Regions from separate parts of the Homo sapiens genome. Here regions 2 and 3 are each linked to region 1. Evidence: fine-mapped expression QTL. A gene starts in region 1. Each other region holds a variant in brackets. All regions are shown on one strand. Distances are between the middles of the regions.

Region 1 (5,141 bases):
AGGGCATTTGCCACAGGGTCACCTTCAGGCATGGAGGGTGGGGTTGAGAGAACAAAGGGAGCAGCTGTCTGTTCAGAGCCTCCTTTCCACCCTCGCCACTCCTGGAGTCACATTCCAGCCCAGGTCCGCAGCATCCCAAGCTGGGGACTTTGTCACCCCACAGGGCACCCAGCTGATCAGGTCCTCTCAGTCTGGGGAGAAGAACTCACAATCCTGGCAATGAAGGAACTCAGGGCCCACTGGAAAGCCACACTGAGCAAAGGACAAAGACACACCCAGGCTTGCTCTGCAGGACTCCATTTCTGGGAAGCTCAAGGACAGGCGACAAACGAGTCTATAGGGCAGGATGGGGGCTGCCAGGGCAGGATGGGCATGAGGGTGAGCTGCAGAGGCAGGAGGACACACCGTCTGGGGCAAGGCAGATGTCACAGGTCTGGACAAAGTGGTAACACGGGTATATGCGTTAATGAAATCCCCCAGATTAGACATTTTGTTGTCTATAAATTCTACCTCACTCACAGTGATGTTCTAAACTCAGGTGAGTTTTCCAAGCAGTGCAGAGGACCAGCGCCAGCAGCATGACGCCCAGAGGGGAGGAGCAAGAGACACCCGTGGGCTCCCACATTCATCCTGTGGCTGCTGCTCCCTCTCCTGACACCCCCACTGCCTGCCAATGGGTCTCACTGCACCTTCCACCCGGCCCCACCCACAGTTACCATGAGACTCCAGATCGTTCCCTTCCCTGCTCACACTCCCTCCAGGAGCTTCCTCTTCCTGGAGCAGGCATGCCCAGCCCCGCCTCAGGGCCTTTGCACTGGCCCTTCCCGCTGCCTGGGGCTGTTTCCTGTCTAGGCAGGGCTTCTCACCTTTCCAGTCTCATAGAGTCCTCCCTGACCAGGTCCAGTGGCATCATCTCTCTCTATCCCATACTCTCACTTCCAACAGAGAGACTAATTTCCTGATATTAATTATTGATCACTATTCGCCATCCTCCCACACACCCTAATGCTGGGCTGTGCAGTGCCACAGCCACCAGCCACATGTGGCCACAGGGTGCTTGAAATGGGGCCAGTACAATTGACACCCACATACACAGGGAATTTCAAAGACTCAGTACACACACCCAAAATAAAATAACCTATGTTATTAATGATTCTTCTTATGTGTTGAAATAATATTTTGGATATATTAGGTTAAGTAAGAAATATTATAAACATTACCTTCACCTGTTTCTTTTTTACTTTTTGAAATGTGTCTCCCAGAAAGTTTTAAATTGCTCCTGGGTTCGTGTCACATTTCTGTCTGGCAGCAGCCCTGCAATGTAGTGTCCATGGCTCGGTCACCCAGGCTCCGTCTCTAGCTCCTAGACTACCTGGTGCAGGGGGAAGCTGGTGAAAAGTCTGTTTACTGAATAATGAGTTGTGAAAGGAGAACCCAGAGTTTTTTACTCAAATAAAGGTTAATTCTTCTGTTTGAAAAGTTCCCTAGCACAGGGCATGGCCTGAGTCTCCTGTGGCCTCTGGAATCACACCTCTGCCTTAGTGATTTCTAGACCTTGACCAAATGCTCACGGATACTCAGGACCTCTGAAGACTCCGGAAGGCCGAGACCTCTATCTTTCCCTTTTCTGAGGAAATGAAGCTAGGGGGTCGTATGCTTTTAGGGCCCAGGGGGCCTTGACACCTCTCTGGAGGGCAGGGTGACCTAAGCTTGGGAGGAGGGACAGGTCTTTGGGAAGAGATGGAGCTGAGGGGGTGGAGTGGGTAGAAGGGGGGCATAGGTGTGGAAGGGGTGGGGGAAGAGGGGCCAGGAGTGGGGTGAGAAGAGGGGAAAGAAGAGGATAGGAGGGACAGGGACAGGGAGAGGCCAGGAATGGGTAGGAAGGGAAGACAGAGGAGGGGCGGGACGAGGGAGGGGCGATGAAGAGGGGCCGAGCTGGGGTGGGGGCGAAGTGGGAGCAAGGACAGGAGTGGAGGAGGGAGATGAGGGGCATGGGAGGCGGTGTCTGGGGGTTGAAAGGGGAAAGGGACAGAGGAGAAGGAGCCTGAAGAGTGGCGGCATGGAGGGGCCCGAAGTGGGGAGGTGGGAATGGTCGGATGGATGGGGAGGAATGGGGAGGATAGGAGAGGCAGGGGAGGCTGGAAGACAGTAGGAGAGGAGGGGGAGGGGAGGGGAGGGGATGGATGGGAATGGATAGGGAAGGCCAGGGAGACTGGGGGGCCAGGGGAGGAGGGGAGGGAGAGGGGAGGCGGGAAGGGAGAGGAGAGGCCGGGAGGGGCTGGGAGGGGAGGGAAGGGGATGGATGGGGAAGGACAGGGAAGCCTGGAGGGGCAGGGGAGGCTGGGATGGGAGGAGACTGATAGGGAGGGACCTGGAGGCGGGGAGAGGCAGGGGAGGCGGGGAGAGGCAGGGGAGGCGGGGAGGGAGAAGGGAGGTGGGAGGGACGAGGCGTTCCGGAAAAGGGAGTGCAGGCCGCGGTGGGGTGGGGCGGCGAAGGCCGGAAGGGATAAAACCGCAGTCGCCGGCCTCGCGGGGCTCACGGCCTCGCCTCGGTATCGCAGCGGGTCCTCTCTATCTAGCTCCAGCCTCTCGCCTGCGCCCCACTCCCCGCGTCCCGCGTCCTAGCCGACCATGGCCGGGCCCCTGCGCGCCCCGCTGCTCCTGCTGGCCATCCTGGCCGTGGCCCTGGCCGTGAGCCCCGCGGCCGGCTCCAGTCCCGGCAAGCCGCCGCGCCTAGTGGGAGGCCCCATGGACGCCAGCGTGGAGGAGGAGGGTGTGCGGCGTGCACTGGACTTTGCCGTCGGCGAGTACAACAAAGCCAGCAACGACATGTACCACAGCCGCGCGCTGCAGGTGGTGCGCGCCCGCAAGCAGGTGCGTGCCGCCCCCCGCAGGGTCCGAAGCCCCGGCCCCGCCGTCCCAGCCTCCCCCCGCGCTGCTCCCGGACCCCGTGCTGCTCCTCTCCGGCGCCTGGGCTTCTCACCCGGACCCTGTTCCCGGTCTTCGCTGTCACCCCCGAGCCCTTGGCGGGCGTGTCCGGGAATGCCCTGAGTCTGGCCTGGCCTGGAACCGCACGGACACGTCAGGTCCGCGCCCGGCGCCTAAGATCAGCTTCCAGGAGCCAGCTCGAGCTGCGCCGCAGCGCGGGGGCAGGCACAGGACGTCCCACACAGCTCTGTCCCGACCTCCTGGGACGCTGGGCTCCGGGTGCGCTGCTGAATACGCAGGAGAAGGAAAAACAGAGCCCCTCATCTGGCTGCCTCCTTGTTCTTCCACCAAATAATTTTTAAGCACTTTTGTTTCTTTTAACTTTTTATTCTCCCGTAATTTCAGACTTACAGAGCAGCTGCAAAATAGCACAGGGCATCCCTGTAGATCTTTCACCCAGATCCCTCAGATGTTAGCACAGATGTTAACATTTTGCCCTGTTTGTTCCCCCCAGCTCACTTTCCGAATGTGAATATGGGTGTGTGTATATGTACTGTATATGCATTTTTTGCCTGAATCTTTTGAAAGTAAACACTTCAGTGTGTTTTTCCTAAAAACAAGGGCAATATCGCACATAATCACTATTCCATTTTGAAAATCAGCACTGACACATTCATGATCTAATGCTCAGACTCATTCAGCTTTCCCTGTCTGTTGACGGCCTTCGTGCCCTAGGACGCTCCTGGGCCATGAGTGCATGAGTTCAGCCCTGTCCTGTCCCCTCGGCCTCTTTTAACCTGCAGCAGCAGCTGGGTCTGTGCCACGACCGTGCCATTTCCCAGGGTCTAGCAGGTGTGGATGGAGACTATGCTGACTCTGGGTGGGCTTGATGCTGCTCAAGATGAGATCTAGGCCATGCGGCTCATCCTCCTCCCAGAATACTCTCCGCAGGGGCCACACGTGAGCCTGGCACCTTGTCCTGCAGAGCCCTGCTTCCCTCCCCAAGTCACACCCCTGGGCACAGTCCCCTAGGACTAGCGGCCTTCACCCTCAGGCCGGCTGACCACCCCCTACATCCCAGGGCAGCTGAGTCCCTGCTGGGGTGGAGCATGCCTGACCCTGCCTCTATCAGCTGATGCAGAGTTAGACCTCAGCCAGATGAAGACACCCAGCAGACCGGAGTAGGGGGTCGGATCGGGAGGGAGCTTCAGTAGGGCTACCAGGCCCAGCTTGACCTGCATCCCATGGCAGAGCAGCGAACAGTGACACAGACTTTAGAGCTCCTCCACCTTCTCTTGGAAATTCAGAGGAGTCCAGACCAGCCGCGTTTCTCCCGCAGCCGTCAGCTGGGGCCCTCTCCCTGCACAGGAGGGCCATTCCCTGGTGTAGGGTCCCCGCTGGCCTGCACCTCTCTCTCACTGGGAGTGAAGCATGGGGCATTGTAGATCGTTGGGCCCTGGAGCCTATTTTACAGAGGAGCAGACTGACACCAGAGGGATCACAGGCCTTGCTTGTGCTTCTACAGGACTTGTGTGTGGTTCCACAGGGCAAGGTCTAGCACCCTGGTCCCAGGGTCCCTCATCCCATGCTTCTCCACAGTTCTGACAAGTCATGTTTTGGGGCGGCACTGTGCAGGGAAAGCATTCAGTTCTCTTCTGAAGTTGCAACCCTAAGACATGCAGGTGTGTGACTCACTTTAGAAATATTGCCTTGAAAATCACACCTGGAATGGAAGCACGTGGGAAGCAATGTTTATTGGCCTAAAACATCAATGTATGTGAGCATCTCATCTCCTAGTGAGAAATGAGGAAAAATACCTCTGGGTTAAATGGCAGGAATGAGATGCTCTGTGGACTGAATGCCAGGAACTGGAAGTTTGCCGAAATTTCATCATCACATGAGAACCTTCCTAGAATAGATCCAGTGTCCCTGCCCCCTGGGTCATAGGTAGCGGAATTCAGTTAATCCTTGGCATTGGCATAGAGAAACAAGTTACCGGGGAGGCCTGGGGCATGGCATCCCTGCCAGCTGGCAGGAGGAGGTGGCTTGTGTGCCTTGCAGGTGACAATGTGGGCAGCTCATGAAGGTAGGCTTGAAGCCCCAGGCAAGCCCAGTGACCCGGTCACAGTGAAGTGCCTGTGTGTGTAAGAAACTGACAGAACGTGCTGTCCCTGCCTCCTGCTCTTTCACATGTGTAGATCGTAGCTGGGGTG
Region 2 (5,250 bases), 28 kb before region 1:
GATTCTCTTCATGATCTCTTCATCTTCACATGTCATATTTCAACATATTGTCACCTTCTTTATCGTGGGGTAGGAAGACTGCCGCTCTGCGAGACTCTTCCCACCTTAGTTCCTGTCAGAAGCCCTCCATCTCTCAGAGGTCAGCCACCCACCCTCTCTGCGAAATCTGACACAGCCCAGGATCTCTCTCAGACACCTTCCAAGCCATGGGTTATAGACTCTGGGTTCCTGTAATCCATGCTTTTTTAGATTAAGAATTGCTAATGTTAATTTTCCAAATATGGTTGGCAAAGATTAAAATTGACTATCACTAATTCATAATGGAAAACCATGTGGTACTGCCCCAAATGAAGTCCATGATCAAAATTGAGAGGTGCCCTCCCCTGCACTCTCGTAAAACCTGAACCTCTAAGCTGGATCCACGGGGTGGCATTTGAGATCCACAGTCCTACATGCATAACGCCCCAACACTCTATGAGGACGGCTCTGGATTCCTCCCCAAAGCCCCAGCCCTGACAATCTGCTCATCCTCACCTCTGCCTTGGCTGAGTAACCATCCTGTGACTTACTCAGGCCTGGGCTGGAGTTCTGTTCTTTCCTCCTCACTGCGCCCTCAACCCAGCCCTCAGCAAGTCCTGCCCCGCCACCTCTCATAGGCATCCTGAGTCTCCTGTGCTCCAACTCCCGGCCACGGCACAGGCCCAGGTCACTGTCCTCTCTTTCCTGAGCAACTGCAATGTCCTCCTGACTGTTCTCCACCCTCCCATTCTCACCAACTAGAAGCCTGTTCCTTCCCTGTGGCCATGCCAGCCTTCTAATAATATAAAAGGTGTCTTGTCATGTCCTGGTAAAAGCTTTCAAAGGCTTCTCATTTCACTTGGAGTAAAATAGAAATTCTTCAGCACGGTGTGCAAGGCATGGCAGGAATTGATATCTGCTCATCCACCAAACCCAGTCTGCTTACCTCTCCTGCCAGCCGGTTCCTCACTCAATTCAGGAGCTTCCACAGGTTAGGATCATTTCCAGCTAGGGGTCGGTTTATGATTTTCTTTGCATTAAACACCATTCTTGCTGGCTTTCTGCAGCTGGCTCTTTCTCCTCCTTAAAAGTCTAGCTCACATGTTATTTCCTCAAATCGCTCCTTCCTGATCATTCTCTGCAGTTAGAATTTGGCTTGGCCACCAGTTCGTTTAAGGCAATATTGTATCCATCTCATTCTCTGTAATGTGTCTGTGCTTCTCACAATCTGTGGAATGTGGAGGACACTCAGTGTGCATACTGGATGAACATGCCTTTATGGGTGTGTCAGAGACTTTCCCAGTGTGGATAAGATGATTTCATATGGATACCTTGCTAGCAGCCCCATGAGGTGACAATGACTCTAAGACGACTTGTTAGAACTGCCATTTCAATGGCTAGAGTTTTAATTACTTTTGGATCTTTTGAAAAACAGTAAAATCTTAAAAGGAAATATCAAAATGCAACTGGGGAAGGATAAGAAATGACCCTGGGGAGGGTGGCAGGAAGCACAAGCTGTCCCAGAGGAAGAGTCCTGGAAACCAGCCAGCAGAGCCCCCACCAGCAATACTGTCAGCCTTTCTCCAGGGCTTCTCTGTGCCGACCAATTTGGCAAGAACCTCTTACACATCATCATTTTGTTCTTCACTTATTCCCAAAACATAGAGAGATTCTTTTTCTGATGAGAAGATAATTCCTAGCACACAACAGGCACACCATAACCTTATTTTGACTGAATGCGTGGAGGCATCCCACGTCCACTCTTAAGGAGAGGAGATCGCTGGAGAGTTCCAAGATTCCAGGCAGAGCTCAGCAGTGTTGAGATCACAGTGTGGGGTCTGACACTTTTTGTTGCAGTTTCCTTGTCTGAAAAATGTGGAAAACATATTTTATAAAGATTGCTGGAGAATCCATTCATTCGCTCAACTAATTCCTTACTGAGTCCAGTGCTAGGGCTGAGACCACAGCATTGAGCAAGTAGACAGTGTGCCATGTGCATGGAACAAAGGAAGCAGAGAGGCACAGGCATGGCAGCTGATAGACATCCCCTTCTTTCCTTCTAGGCCTGTGATTCTCACCAGAAGAGGGTGCCTTGGAGTAGGTTGAGCCCACTGGAAGGAAGCACAGGAGGTAAAGTGAGTGCATCTTCAATGTGATGCTACCCTAGGAAAATGCCATGGTGCTGCTGAACTACGACAGTGATAACAAATGCTGCAGTGGGAACCCAGAGACCTCAGAGAAGAGCG[A/C]TGAGGGCTTCCGGGGGAACACAAGAGCTGTTGAATGGAGTGAGCCATCAGGGGACCCGTAGTGGGCAGCTCTCAGGCTCCTGAGGGATTGGTGCCTTGTTCAGGTGCATGCACACACACAATCTCAAACACACATACACAGTCTCATGCAATAGTGTACTACTACAGAGAAAACCTGCTGTATAAATATTTCTCAGTAATGAATTTCCGCAAAAGCATGAAACTCTTTATGTTCATGGAAAATTCTAGAAAAACTCCTTGCAGGGTGCAAAAGATCTAAAACAGTGTTTGCAAACTGTTGCACACAGCACAAATGTGGCTATGAGTTAATATATATTGCTAATTACATTTTCAAAGATTCCCTGAAGAATACATTGAAATTATACTGTATACAAAAGCCTCCATTCAGAGATACCAATGCACATTAGAATATTCATTAAAACAAAAAATACTTGCAATGAGAATCTGATTCATTCTCTTCCAACTTTCCTAGACGATTCTGTTCCTCACACCCTTTGTGTTTTGCGGGGAAGGGCTAACATGTATCAGCAACCATGAGAAAGAGTGTCCTGTGAAGATAAATTGGGAAACACTGATCTAGAATAATGTTTCACCTTCTGTGAGTTCTAGTACAGAGAAAGCAAGTAAATATATTGATGATAATGGAACTAAGATTTATAAATGTCCAAGAAAAGAGCCACAACTATAGAAAGGAGGGGACTGGAAAGAATCTCATTGCATTGGGTTTGGTGTCAATATTAACTCAGAGTTTTTAATACGTAAATAGGTAATAGAACAATAGCTATCTACACGTGGGTAAGTTTCTGTGTGTATTTTGTAGCACTGACCAACAGACAAGGCCAAGAACAAGGTTCCTCTACTTCTGCACTGTGGCCATGTGAGACCTAGGAAATGTCCTATGCATTGCAGAATGTTGATCAGCATCCCTGCCCTCTCTCCCTAAATGCCAGTAGCACCTGCCTTACAAATTGGAACAACCAAACACATCCCTAGACATTACCAAATGTGCCCTGGGAAGCAAAATTGCCCCAGGTTGAGAATCTCTGACTGAGGCCTCACGGCATTCCAGGAGTGGTGAGTACAGGCAGCACGCGGGAATTGCTTTCTGCATTCACTGCAGATTCCAACCACTGATTTTCACCTTGGATCAGAGAAAGTAAAACATAAATCTAGGACTTCTTGTTATATCAGAAAGTAAGGATAAGCTCAAATAATGATGGAAATATGTCAAGAGGACACAGGAAGCAGCTTAAAGGGGCTCCCACTAGCCTATTCTGAGATAATTTTAACATTCTAATAAACAAGAGCAATACATTCTAACTCACTGAGTAAAATAAGAAACCATGAGTGGGATAGATCTATAGCAAAATAGATGACTAACAGATAGATGGATAGGTAGGTAAAAGAGAAAAGTGTTTCCTTGCAGTAGAATGAATGCCATTTATAAGTATGTTTTAAAAACGAAGTTAGGAATACAATTTGAAAGCAATCATAATAACAATTGATTCGAAGAGGAATTATTATTGTATGCTAAAGCTAGAAAGCAAAAGTGAAAACTTTATAAGTAAGACATAAATACATATTTCAAAGTATTGCTCAGTGAAATAATTCCTAATTATAAAGGAGAGAAGAGTAAACCATACTGTGGAGAGATCTGTCAGATACCATCTGAACCTAGAGATCAAAGTTAGTGTCTGTCAGCCATGGGACAGCGATGTTATGGCCTCCTGGTAGGAGGTACTGAGGGACACAAGATCACATCTACAATTCTTCTCTGAAAATCTGCATAGCCTGAATCTCATCCATTGACAAAGCCCAGTTGAGGACATTCCATGAAATCGCCAGTTATCTTCAAAAATGACAAGATTACAAAGATAAGAAAGACTGAGAAACGGTTTCAGATCAGAGGAGACTGAGGCGGCCTGACAATGACACACAGTTGATGAATTGCATGGATGACAGATTAGACGACAATGTGGACCCATGCTAGTGCTGTGATTCCTCTCACTGCACTGAGGCTGTGCTGGAGAATGTCCTTGGCCTTAGGGGACACAGATGAGAATGTCTAGGGACAAAAGGAGTCACACCTGCAGCTTGCTCTGAAATGGCTCAGGAAAAGCTGTAACAGTGCATACACATATAGAAAGAGGGAAAAGCGCGCGAGACACAATGTGAGGAGTGGGAGGGTCTGGGTGTGTACAGGAGCTCTTTATATTACTCTTGCTGCTTTTTGTAAGTTTGAAGTCACTTCAAAACTACAATAAAAAAGTTTATTATTACTTCTTTTCTAATAAATATAGAAAAATAAAATTGCTTCATTTTTTCTATATTTATTAATGGCATTCTTTTTACTCCAAGGAAGAACTTTTCTCCTTTATCTGTATCTATCTTTCCATCTCTCTATTTGTTAATCATCTATTTATCCACAGATCTAGAAGATTCATGGTTTCTTATTTTATTCAATGAATTGTAATCTATTACTATCATTTATTTGAATGTTTAAATTTTCTCAGAGTTGACTAGTAGAGCCCCTTTAAGCTGCTTCCTGTGTCCTCCTGACATACTTCCATCATCTTTTTATCTTTTACAAAAAATTAAAAATTAAAAATACAGCAAAGTGCTGCCTCAGCACTGAGACCCCAGCCCCACCCAGCACACACAGGCCTGTGTGCTCAGCTTGTTGGAAAGTCCCGGCTCATGCTTCCCATCCTAGCATGGACTTCCAGCCAAGCCACAGTACCATGAAGCTACAGGCCAGCTGGTTACTACGGATGTGTTTCACCAGCGTCCACACCCTGTACTGTTCCTTGGAGCAGAGAAACGGGGTGTGAGACGGCAGGGACTAGGGCACTGAAGAGAATGCATGGGCAGAGACTGAGGAAGGAGCTCCCTCTGCTTCCCCCAGATGTGTTGCCTCACAAGGGACAGCCACGTTCCCCACCACTCACTCTACCTGCACCTCCCT
Region 3 (5,250 bases), 120 kb before region 1:
CTATTGATTGGAATAGTTTCAAAAGGAATGGTACCAGCTCCTCTTTGTGCCACTGGTAGAATTCAACTGTGAATCTGTCTGGTCCTGGACTTTTTTGGTTAGTAGGCTATTAATTATTGCCTCAATTTCAGAGCCTGTTATTGGTCTATTCAGCAATTCAGCTTCTTCCTGGTTTAGTCTTGGGAGGGTGTATGCGTCCAGGAATGTATCTATTTCTTCTAGATTTTCTAATTTATTTGCATAGAGCTGTTTATAGTATTCTCTGATGGTAGTTTGTATTTCTGTGGGATTGGTGGTGATATTCCCTTTATCATTTTTTATTGGGTCTATTGATTCTTCTCTCTTTTCTTCTTTATTAGTCTACTAGTGGTCTATCAATTTTGTTGATCTTTTCAGAAAAAACAGCTCCTGGATTCATTGATTTTTTAAAGGGTTTTTTGCGTCTCTGTCTCCTTCAGTTCTGCTCTGATCTTAGTTACTTCTTGTCTTCTGCTGGCTTTTGAACTTGTTTGCTCTTGCTTCTCTAGTTCTTTTAATTGTGATGTTAGGGTGTCGATTTTAGATCTTTCCTGCTTTCTCTTGTGAGCATTCGGTGCTATAAATTTCTCTCTACACACTGCTTTAAATGTGTCCCAGAGATTCTGGTACGTTGTGTCTTTGTTCTCATTGGCTTAAAAGAACATCTTCATTTTTTACTTCATTTTATTATTTACCCAGTAGTCATTTAGGAGCAGGTTGTTCAGTTTCCATGTAGATGTGTGTAGGGAAAAGAAAGAGAGATCAGACTGTTACTGTGTCTATGTAGAAAGAAGTAGACATAAGAGACTCCATTTTGTTCTGTAATAAGAAAAATTCTTCTACCTTGAGATGCTGTTAATCTGTAACCCTACCCCCAACCCTGTGCTGGCAGAAACAAGTGCTGTGTTGATTCAAGGTTTAACGGATTTAGGGCTAGGTAGGACGTGCTTTGTTAAACAAATGCTTGAAGGCAGCATGCTTGTTAAAAGTCATCACCACTCCCTAATCTCAAGTACACAGGGACACAAATCACTGCAGGAGGCCACAGGAACCTCTTCCTAGGAAAGCCAGGTATTGTCCAAGGTTTCTCCCCATATGAAAGTCTGAAATATGGCCTCGTGGGAAGGGAAAGACCTGACCATCCCCCAACCCCACACCTGTAAAGGGTCTGTGCTGAGGAGGATTAGTAAAAGAGGAAGGCCTCTTTGCAGTTGAGATAAGAGGAAGGCATCTGTCTCCTGCTACTCCCTAGGCAATGGAATATCTGCTTGTAAAACCCAATTGAATGTTCCATCTACTGAGATAGGAGAAAACCACCTTCAGGCTGGAGGTGAGATATGTTGCTGGCAATACTGCTCTTTAATGCACCAGATATGTTTATGTATGTGCACATCAAAGCACAGCACATTTTCTAACCTTGTTTATGACACAGAGACATTTGTTCACATGTTTTCCTGCTGACCATCTCCCCACTATTACACTATTGTCCTGCCACAACCCCCTCTCTGAGATGGTAGAGATAATGATCAATAAATACTGAGGGAACGGAGAGACCTGTGCCAGCGTGGGTCCTCCCTATGCTGAGCACTTGTCCCCTGGGCCCACTTTTCTTTCTCTATACTTTGTCTCTGTGTCTCTTTCTTTTCTCAGTCTCTCATCCCACCCAATGAGAAATGCCCACAGGTGTGGAGCAGCTGGCCACCCTTTCATCTGGTGCCCAACGTGGGTGCTTTCCTCTAGGGTGAAGGTACGCTCAAGCGTGGTCACTGAGGACAAGTTGATGAGAGATTCCCGAGTACGTCTACAGTCAGCCTTGTGGTAAGCTCGAAAGAAGCCAGGGTAACAATGGGGCAAACTAAAGTAAATATGCCTCTTATCTCAGCTCTATTAAAATTTTTGTAAAAAGTGGGGGAGTTAGTGTTTCTACAAAAAATCAAATCACGCTATTTCAAACAATAGAACGATTCTGCCCATGGTTTCTAGAACAGGGAACTTTAGATCTAAAAGATTGGAGAAAAATTGGAAAACAATTAAAACAAGCAAGTAGGGAGGGTAAAATCATCTCACTTACAGTATGGAATGATTGGGTCATTATTAAAGTAGCTTTGGAACGGTTTCAAACAGAATTACTAAGCAGAGACATCAAAGGTAGGAGGTTCTAGATAAACTGACCTAACAATATTGTTGCTAAAGCCAGGACAAAGCCTTAGACATCAAAGGAAAGAAGAACTTGGTCAGATGTTGAGGGTGATCAGATACCAAGGGTGGGGGGGAGCCTTTCTAAACTGACTTAGCAGGATTCTTTCCTAAAACTGGGCCATGAAGCCCTCGCAAGAACAGGAGGTCCAGGGCTGGGGACTAGGGTTGAGGACCAGGGCAGAGGAAGGCTCAGAGGAGCCTAACAAGGGTTTGGTCAAGGTGAGTCTTGTCACTGGATCCAGCTCTTCTGTGACAGGAGGAAAGGGCAGGCAGGGCCACAGGAGGGAGCAGGGCTGTCCTGATGGCCTCTGGCTCCAGCTCCAACACTCAGTGATTGAGTTGAACAGGATTCCAAGCAGGAAGAGGAACCAATCTCCACAGTCACTGCATTTTGCTAAAGGAATTGATATTTAAGGTTACACAAACAGTGACAGGGAAGTCCCAGCAGTGACCCAAACAGGATAAGAAAGTCTGACCACCCAGAGATGTCAAGGAGATGACTCACCTCCTCAGAGTCATCTGTTTTCCTCATGGCCAGGCCTCTGCAGGCTGTAGCCCAGGGAGTCAGATGGATCCCTGGCTGCAGCAGCCAGCAGCCCGAGTTCCGGAGGCCGCCCCTACTCCCCTCCATTCATATGTGGTTCTTCAGTCAGTGAATCTGCACTGACAAATGCTCTTTTTGATTTTTGAAAAATAAATGTTAACTTGTACTCCAGAGCCAGGAATACCATTCATGTGCTGGTCCCTGAGAGAAAGGATTCTCTTTCTCCCCACGGAGTGCAAAACAATCAGACCTGACACTGGGCTCTGCCCTCTCTTGCCTTTCCCAGCCGGGGCTGCCAGCAGGCTTCCCCATGAGTATCAGTTTCCTAATGATGTGGAAAAGCCAAATGTGGTACCAACATGGGCCCATAGTTTAGAAGCATCCACATGTCCTAACAGAGCCAAATGTGTTACCAACATGGGCCCATAATTTAGA[A/C]GCATCCACGTGTCCACGATGTGTGAGGAGAGGGAGAAAAGAAGGAAGGATGGAGTGTGAAAGAGATGAGCTTGACCCCAGAGAATTCCAGGCACTCCATAAAGGAGGCTCCTGGGCTTCCCATTTGAGAAGCCACCAAATCCTGTGGCTGTTCAGTCCCAGCTCCTACCATAGACCAAACTGTTAGTTGCTCAAAACCCAGTTGTGCAGAATCTCAACTCTTGGCCAGCTTGTCCTCACCACTTGCACTTTTACATGATGCTTTCTGCGCTTGGTCATTTATTATGGTATTGTTTAGTGTTCACTTATTATTGGTCATTTATTGCAGAGAACTTCTGCCACTCACCTAATTTCTCATCCTACTAATTCAGATAATCAGATCAGTTCACCTGTGCAGCCTAGGGGAACACAGCTTTCTCTTTTGTCACCTAGCAGAAGGAAAACATGCCCCCTCCTGGGCAGCTGGACTCCTCTAGGTTACATGGGTGCTGGAGGCCCCAAGCTTGTTCCTCAGTCCATGGTTGCTATCTGGCCCTCTTCTAGTGTGTCCTTAAAACTGTGGACTATAGAAATCAGGGAACAAAGTGTTCTGCCATTTTTTTTAGATGGGTGTTTCACTGTGTTGCACAGGCTGAAACTGAACTTCTAGACTCAAGGAATCTTCCTGACTCACTCTCCTAATAAGCTAGGATTACAGGTGCAGTACCACACCTGGCTACTCCATCATTTTTAACCATGTTGATACATCACTGCTGAAGTCTGCTCATCTCTGCTGGTCTTAACTCCCAGATACTATGCTTTAGAAAGTAGCCTCTTTCTCCAGATGCATGACAGACACACCATTTGCCTAAGGTCATCAAACATCTGGAGCAGCTGGCCAGCTACCTCAACCTGCTACTTCCTATCACTCCATACTGGACATCGCACTTGTACCTCCTCCTAAGAGCAATGTACACTGGTATTTTTCCTACTGGGATTAGAGAGCTTGCTGCATCAGAACAGCTGACCCTCCCTGCAGTGCATGCCAGTGCCCAGACAGAAGATGACCACTGGTGGTGTCATCACATACAGGGCACAGGTCAGCACTCTGGCCTCCCTCCCTCATACTCCACCCACCAGCACATTCTCGCTATTTGGGTTACCTGCATCTCCTTTCCAATGATTAAAACAAAACAAAACAAACAAACAAAAACAAACAAAAAAACAAGAGGATTGCTTGACCTTCAGTTTACCCTCTGCACAGCATGTCTTCCTGAGCCTGGACTCCCAGCTGTCCCAGGAAGGTGGGAGCCACAGAGGAGAACTAACTCCTACCCTTTGGAGATGACCATTCTGCTCCCAAACACCTGGTAAGGGACTTCCTTCTCTTTCCCTTCTTTGGAAATCTCTCCCCATTTCCTGTCTAACTAGGAGGCATATGTGCAGCTTTGTTTGAAGACCTTCCCTCCTTCACCCAGCAGTAAACACCTTCGGTACACCTGCTGTATCTGCCGGGCTGCACGGCTATTCTAGGGGTGCTGGATTCACAGTGGGGTGAGATGGTCACCAGGCCTCAGGTAACAAGGTTCCCTGTACTAATACTGAACATGAGCACCCATGAGTAATATGGTTCCCAATGCCGGGTTCCTGCTGATCCAGCCCCAGCCATGTCCCAGCCCAGGATGACTCTTGGCCAGCTTGTCCTCATCACTTGCACCTTTATGTGATGGTTTCTGCACTTGGTCATTTGTTTATTATAGTATTGTTTAGTGTTCTAAACAGGTCTGGGCTGACACTGGCCAACGCTCACCTCCACCACTCCTGGGAGAGTCCTCTGGGTGTCCTGCTAAGGTCCAGGGTTTCCTGTAGCTTCTGGCCAAGCCTGCCACCTCCCCATAAGGGCATTTGCCACAGGGTCACCTTCAGGCATGGAGGGTGGGGTTGAGAGAACAAAGGGAGCAGCTGTCTGTTCAGAGCCTCCTTCCACCCTCTCCTCTCCTGGAGTCACATTCCAGCCCAGGCCCACAGCATCCCGAGCTGGGGGCTTTGTCAGCCCATAGGACACCCAACTGACC

Evidence for each region. PIP is the estimated chance that this variant, and not a neighbour inherited with it, causes the effect.
Region 2: its variant is fine-mapped to the expression of CST3 in whole blood (TOPMed, PIP 0.93).
Region 3: its variant is fine-mapped to the expression of CST3 in whole blood (TOPMed, PIP above 0.99).

Annotation. Positions count from the first base shown.
Region 1 is chr20:23,635,353-23,640,493 of GRCh38, reverse strand. CST3 (cystatin C) reads left to right here and starts at 2,539. Exons shown (of 3, transcript NM_000099.4): 1 at 2,539-2,874; 2 at 5,127-5,141. The coding sequence starts at 2,632. RefSeq lists silencers at 2,385-2,724, 2,755-3,004.
Region 2 is chr20:23,663,217-23,668,466 of GRCh38, reverse strand. LOC107985383 (a long non-coding RNA gene) reads right to left here. Exons shown (of 5, transcript XR_001754712.2): 3 at 965-2,129. Among named protein-coding and RNA genes, the nearest start is that of CST4, 23 kb to the left of the region's middle. The variant A/C (reference allele first, on the strand shown) is at 2,265.
Region 3 is chr20:23,752,757-23,758,006 of GRCh38, reverse strand. No RefSeq gene overlaps it. Among named protein-coding and RNA genes, the nearest start is that of CST1, 4.4 kb to the right of the region's middle. RefSeq lists enhancers at 695-1,445, 4,804-5,250. The variant A/C (reference allele first, on the strand shown) is at 3,197.